Linked DNA regions of Homo sapiens. The protein of the gene in region 1 purifies or fractionates together with the protein of each later gene. This does not show direct contact. Each region holds a gene or a part of one and is shown on either strand. Other genes may lie near its edges.

Region 1 (3,500 bases):
CTCGGCTCACTGCAAACTTCGCCTCCCAGATTCACGCCATTCTCCTGTCTCAGCCTCCTGAGTAGCTGGGACTACAGGCGCCCGCTACCACGCCTGGCTAATTTTTTGTATTTTTAGTAAAGACGAGGTTTCACCATGTTGGCCAGGATGGTCTTGATCTCCTGATCTTGTGATCCTCTTGCCTCGGCCTCCCAAAGTCCTGGGATTACAGGCATGAGCCACCGTGCCTGGCCTGAACTACACTCTTAAGATAGAAGTGCTGACACTGTTTTACCCTGCTGAAGACAGCCTCCCCAGCCTTGCCCAGAAGTGAGCAGCACAGGTGGACAGTGCTTCTCTCTCCCTTACCATGTAGTATCCTGGAAGCAGCTTCTGCAGAAATTCCGCCTCTTTATGTTGGACTGTCTTAATAATGAACTCATCGTCGCTGGACACATAGAATAGGGAACCACTAGCTCCAGAGCTACAGAGTTCAATCAGCGGCTCACTGCAGAGGGAATACTGGGGCAAACAGAGAAGAACTAAGAGATTTAGACACATCAGGGCCTTGCCCAACACAAAAATCAACTACAGATGCAATTCTTTTCTAAATAAAAACCAGAGCGAGACTGTGGAGAAAAGGGGCCTTCCTTTGGGAATATCCCTCTGATACTGGAGTCACAGTGTCCTGATATCCAGATGCTTACCAAGTAATCATCGGGCCGGATACCAAATAGCTCCCGGAAGTAGCGGAAGGCAACAGGTGCATAGGTCTTGAAACGAAAGTCATTGTAGTGATGAGCAGGGGTCAGGTTGCTCCCTTCACTGTGGGGTTAAACAGAGGTAGCCATAACTTGCCAGTCCCTATCATCCAGAGAATCTACCTTGCGAAGACACTCAGAGTCACCTCATGGTGGGGGGAGTGGGGGAATACATTCCTCCTAAGATAATCACAGCCCTTCTTAGATGAGTTAGTGAGACAATGGCACAGCATGGACAGCAAGACATAAGAAGAAGAAGAAATCACACTGCCTCCTATCCAATGCATTAGGTTGTTTTTTACGGGTCAATCCATAGGACAGAGGCTAATGGAAGCATCTAGAGGACAGTATCTGCTCTCCGAACTCTCTAGTCCCACATCGCCCTGATTGTAACCAGGTTAAGAAATGGACACATGTCTAAATTGTCCGACCTGAACCCCTAAAACTGCCCTGGGCTGATTTGAAAAGGCCACATTTCCAGGACATGCTCCTGAACATTAAACTCTGTACCTGGGAAAGAAGATACTCTCAACCACGTAGAAATCTTGCATGAGGACATCACGCTCTGGTTTGGTACTCAGGCTCCCCACAGTGTGGGTAATGCCTAACTGGATGGCACCTTTCAAGGCTGATGAGGTTGTCTGAGAAACAAGAGAAATGAGAAGAAAATTCCTAGTATAAGTAGGATCATAACAATAAAAATTCAGAAAGGGGAAGCTAGAAGGAACACTTTAAAACAAACATCCTTTAGTCTGAGCAATAGTTCAGATAAAACTGGGACAATCCAGTTTCCCCATCCCTATGCTGTACTCTGCAATTAAGCTTAGTAAAGATTGGAAGGACAGTGAGGATACAGAGTAGCAAAGCTGGGACTCTCTGAGCCAGCCTCAGCTAGGCAAGGTGCTCCCTCCTGTTGGCCTGCCTAAACAAGAGTTCCATATTTGTATTTGGAAGATACATTGTATTGACACAACGTTCTTAGTTCTCACTCCTAAGGTTTCTGCCCCCAGAGTGTATCTGGAGCCCTCTAAACATTTCCTTCATCTGATATCGAATGTAACTAAAATTAACCAATATTCCTTTTTTTTTTTTTTTTTTTTGAGACTAAGTCTCACTCTGTCACCCAGGCTGGAATGGAGTACAGCAGCATGATCTCGGCTCACTGCAAACTTTGCCTCCCCGGTTCAAGCGATTCTCATGCCTCAGCCTCCCGAGTAGCTGAGATTACAGGCATGCACCACGACACCTTGCTTATTCTTTATATTTTTAGTACAGATGGGGTTTCACTATGTTGGTCAGGCTGGTCTCAAGCTCCTAACCTCAGAACTCCCAAAGCTCTGGGATTACGGGCATGAGCCACCATGCCCAGCCCTAAAATTAACCAATATTCTGATCTGACTGCCTGGCGGCAGAAACTTCAGTCCTCTAAGGAAGGGCCTGACTAGTGTGTCTCAAGGCCAACAGGGTGGGGTGGGCGCGGGCGGAGGCTCACGCCTCTAATCCAAGCACTTTGGGAGACTGAGGTGGGCAGACCACTTTAGGCCAAGAGTTCGAGACCAGCCTGGCCAATGTGGTGAAACCGTCTCTACTAAAAACACAAAAATTAGCTGGATGAGGTGGTGTGCACCTGTAGTCCCAGCTACTCAGAAGGCTGAGACAGGAGAATTGCTTGAAGCTGGGAGGCGGAGGCTGCAGTGAGCCAAGATCACACCACTGCATTCCAGCCTGGGTAACACAGCCAGACTGTCTCAAAAAAAAGGGCAACAGTGTGGTAAAAGAGCTCCTAACTGAAGAAGAAAGCATGAAAGACTCAAATTATTTCTGAGAGCAGTATTCAGACTTAGAATTATCAAACTTGGTCAAAACACAAATACAAGAGCCCCACTCTTACAATCCAGGATTCCAAGCCCGTGGGAAAGTATCGCATCATCTAGATCTTTGCTGTCTGATAACAGTAGCCACTAGGTACACATGGCTATTTAAATTTAAGTTAACTCAAATTTAAAACTTCATTTTCTCAGTCTTACTACTTACAGTTCAAGTGTGGCTACTAGCTACCATATTGGATAGCACAGATACAGCACATTTCAATCACTGCAGAAACTTTGATTAGATAGCTTTGCTCCATTTGCCTCATCCCCAACCTCGGCCAGGCATTACTTATATTTCTACTTGGTCCTCAATGGGCAATAAATTACAACTAGTTTTTTGTTTTTTTTTTCTTGAGACGGAGTCTCGCTCTGTCGCCCAGGCTGGAGTGCAGTGGCGTGATCTTGGCTCACTGCAAGCTCCGCCTCCCTGGTTGACACCATTCTCCTGCCTCAGCCTCCTGAGTAGCTGGGACTACAGGCGCAAGCCACCACACCCGACTAATTTTTTGTATTTTTTTTTTAGTAGAGATGGGGTTTCACCGTGTTAGCCAGGATGATCTCGATCTCCTGACCTCGTTATCCACCTGCCTCGGCCTCCCAAAGTGCTGGGATTACAGGCATGAGCCACCATGCCCAGCCTACAACTAGTTTTTTTCATGTACAAATAGGTCAAAGGAAAATAAATTATTAGTTTCTTTTTTTTTTTAAGTACCTGCCTCCCCAGTTATAATAGAAACTCATCTTTTTATCTTAATGTTCAACATATAAAAAGAGCTAAATGGCCGGGTGCTGTGGCTCATGCCTGTAATCCCAGCACTTTGGGAGGCCGAGACAGGCAGATTACCTGAGGTCAGGAGTTCAAGACCAGCCTGACCAACATGGAGAAACC
Region 2 (3,500 bases), on another chromosome or scaffold:
CAGAATGTGAGAATGTGGGTTACCATATGTGATACCCAGACCTGTGTGGTGGGTTATTTTTCACCCAACATTTAGGTAATTAGAATTAATGCCATGTGGCTATTTACTTTTCCTTCTGCCCCGTTGCTTTGATCCGATCTCCAAGCTTGAACAACTTTACTTGGAGAAGTAAAGCAGAATTATTTCTGCTTCACCAAATATACTTTGTTCTCTGTTGATTTGGATCTCAAGAGCAGAGATAACTCAAAATCACTTAGATTTATGGGCAGATAAAACAACAACAACAAAAGGTTTGGCTTTAAGCCAATCAAAGACAATCCCCACTGATCAATGACATAGACCAGGCTTATCATCAAAAAACAACACAAGGGGTCGAACAGCATCTTTCAGTCACTTTCCACTTAGAACTTGCTACTTAATGTGATTACACTTCTTGGGGGATAATTAAGTCTAGCAGAAGCTCCCAGGGGACCATGTTAACATCAATTGAGGGGATTTAATGTTTTTAATGCTAGAAGACCTTTTCCTTAGGAAGAAACTTCGGGGCTGGGGGGAAGAGTCCTCTCAGATCTCAGTTGGCTTTCTGCCTGAGTCAACCTTCCTGAGATCAAAGAGTGTTTTTTCCTGGAGTGTTGCACTCAGAGCCACACGAAGGACTTACGGGGACCTTTTAGAGTTCCCCTTAAAAAGTTAAGGAATGTTTAATAACCAGTAATTTACATATAAAGCTAGATTACCTAACAGGTTGTCAGGAAAGATCTGCTAAAATCTTACTTTCATTGCAGATAAATGTGGCGATACTATAAAAATTGAAAGCCCCGGGTACCTTACATCTCCTGGTTATCCTCATTCTTATCACCCAAGTGAAAAATGCGAATGGCTGATTCAGGCTCCGGACCCATACCAGAGAATTATGATCAACTTCAACCCTCACTTCGATTTGGAGGACAGAGACTGCAAGTAAGTGGGAATGTTTTTGAACAGGGCACCACAGCACCATCTAGTGGTCACGCCTGTCTACGGGGGGGAAGTCGGTGTGTACAATGTAGATTATAAATGGATCCAGGAGGGATTCCAATCTCAGCCAGATTATATGTCAATGGTATGGAAATTGAAGTACGTTAAGTGATTTCTGAGTTCCCCAAACCAGGAAGATTATAGTTAAATGTGTAAGCTCTTATACTCCTTCCTGTTAGCACTTTTGGTTTGGGAACTCTTGTTAAGAAATGTATACAGTATGTATGTTTCTTTTTTCTTTCTTTTTTTTTTTTTCCTGGAGAGGGGAAGAACTAGAAACTCAAAAATCTCACTTGTATTTTTACGAAATACAGTGGATCACTAATATACATCGCATCCACAGATAGTGTGATTGGAGATCTCACTATTTGAGATATATTGAACTGTGGCACATCTTATGATTTAAGAACTGCATTCATCTTACTAAGTAAGTTTGACATGGAAAAAGCAAATTGAATAAAATAAGGCCTACAGGATAAGCCAGATGAGGGGTTTTGTAAATGGTGGATTACTGATTAAAATACTTTTATGGAAAATGCTAGAAAATAATTGTTAAGACACGATGAATACAATGGGAACTCAAATACACATCAGTGTTTCATCCACCTGCTTAGTCTTGCTATCTCTTTCTATTGTTAAGTTTCTAAACATCAACTTATGCCCAATTTCGTTATTATGAAGACATTCTCACTATAGAGACAGTCGAAATTATATTTCCTCACTTTATGTGAAAGAACTGGTATGTGGATATTGCTTTCCACAGTATCGAAAGTATGTTTTTACCTTGCACGTAGCAGTCCACTCAGATACATGTTTGCTCGTCTCTCTTAACACCCAACAGACCCCCTGTCTCTGTCTTGTCCACATTATCCCATTCTGACCCACTGAAAGTGGTGTAGTCTCCAGAGACTTGAACCTGAATATCCATCTTTTAAGTTTGTACATATATAAATAGTTTTATCAAAGAAAAATAATCGATTTAAATCTCAATTCTAAAGTGTTTCTCAGGGACTGAGAGGTTTTCACAAGTTTTAAAGTGGGTCAGTTTGGTGTAACCGTATATGATATCTACAGACTACTGCTACCGCTGGACCTAAATATTATTTTGCAAGTATATTCATTGTTAAAGACAGTCTATTTGAACACACATTTCTTTTGGGAAAGAACAGAGTAATATCAAAATCTTCCTACCTGTAGGAAGTGCTCGACAACCTGTTGAGTTGGTTTAGTAAACTAGCTTTTCATGGTCAGAGAGATGAGGTCATTTGGTTCATTCAACATTTTAGTATCTAGAGAATTAGCATAAATCCACAGGCTGATGACCAGTTTCCAAATAATCAGTGTATACTACAGTGCAACAAAATTACACCAATTCCAATTTATCTTTGCTTTGTGATTCAGAAGTGCCTCAGGGCATTATATTGACTTTTTAATTGTGTATGGAAGTTACCATTAATAGTGTTCCAGTGACTGCTTGGAAACAAAGAGTTCATTGTATTGATTTATTTATTTTTGCTAATATTCTTTATGGTGGTTTTTACAGTGTCAATCACCTAGACAATCTGGAGACTTGTTTTCTTTTATATTTGATTTACTTCATTAGTAGTAGCAGTAGTTATTAGTATTTGCTTTTTGACCATGTTTAAACTGCTATAGGAGAAACTCTGGTAAAACATACTCAAGTAATAACATTATTCCAAAAAATAAAGTGCTGTTAGAATTCAATAAACTGACGTTTACTAATTTCTAATCTGGAAATCATGACCATCAATACGTGTAATATAATACTTAAAGAATTCAGAATAATCACTAGTTATTGGCAGTGATGTGGTGGTAAATGTTTAACAGCTGGCTCTTTGGAGAAGACGAGTCAAGTCCTCATTTGTATGTAGCACATGCCAATTTCTGTGGTGTAAATACTCTCATCATAGCCAATTTCAAACTAACCATGTGATGTCACTGTGCCCAGACTAGCAAAGAAATGTGCACAGTTGGTTCTTATGAGCTGGTGGGCGCCAGATCCAGCACACAACTGGAGTAGAAATTTAAGAAGGGAAGCCAGTTGAATCACTTAATATATGTAAAGGGCTTACAATTCTATTTGCACATACATTTCTTCTGGGAAAGAACAGAGTAATATAAAAATCTTCCTACCTGTAGAAAGCGCTCAACAACCTGTTGAGTTGGTGTAGTAAACTAGCTTTTCATGGTCAGGGAAATAAGGTCATCTGGTTCATTCAACATTTTGGTGCCTAGAGAATTAGCATAAATCCATAGGCTGATGATCAGTTTCCAAATAATCAGCGTATACTAATTATTACAACAGCATCTCACAGTATTACAATGGTGTCTAGCTCACAGTAAACCTTAAATAATGATTTGTCATATCATGGTGTCAGGTGGGGTATAATGGGATTAAAGGAGCACCTTTTTGGTTAGTTTTCTTTTTAAAAAGTACATTAAAAGATGATTGTAATTCACAG

The links. The genes of interacting proteins can lie anywhere in the genome.
Region 2: the proteins of PIP5K1A (region 1) and NRP1 purify together in Homo sapiens (affinity purification with mass spectrometry; 2 studies listed by BioGRID and IntAct, with this or other methods). This does not show direct contact.

Annotation. Positions count from the first base shown.
Region 1 is NC_000001.11:151,229,552-151,233,051, reverse strand, and holds part of PIP5K1A (phosphatidylinositol 4-phosphate 5-kinase type-1 alpha), read right to left. Parts: intron 1,382-3,500; coding exon 1,251-1,381; intron 805-1,250; coding exon 687-804; intron 502-686; coding exon 349-501; intron 1-348. UniProt on the Homo sapiens protein: Catalyzes the phosphorylation of phosphatidylinositol 4-phosphate (PtdIns(4)P/PI4P) to form phosphatidylinositol 4,5-bisphosphate (PtdIns(4,5)P2/PIP2), a lipid second messenger that regulates several cellular processes such as signal transduction, vesicle trafficking, actin cytoskeleton dynamics, cell adhesion, and cell motility.
Region 2 is NC_000010.11:33,328,168-33,331,667, reverse strand, and holds part of NRP1 (neuropilin-1 isoform a precursor), read left to right. Parts: intron 1-785; coding exon 786-960; intron 961-3,500. UniProt on the Homo sapiens protein: Cell-surface receptor involved in the development of the cardiovascular system, in angiogenesis, in the formation of certain neuronal circuits and in organogenesis outside the nervous system. Mediates the chemorepulsant activity of semaphorins.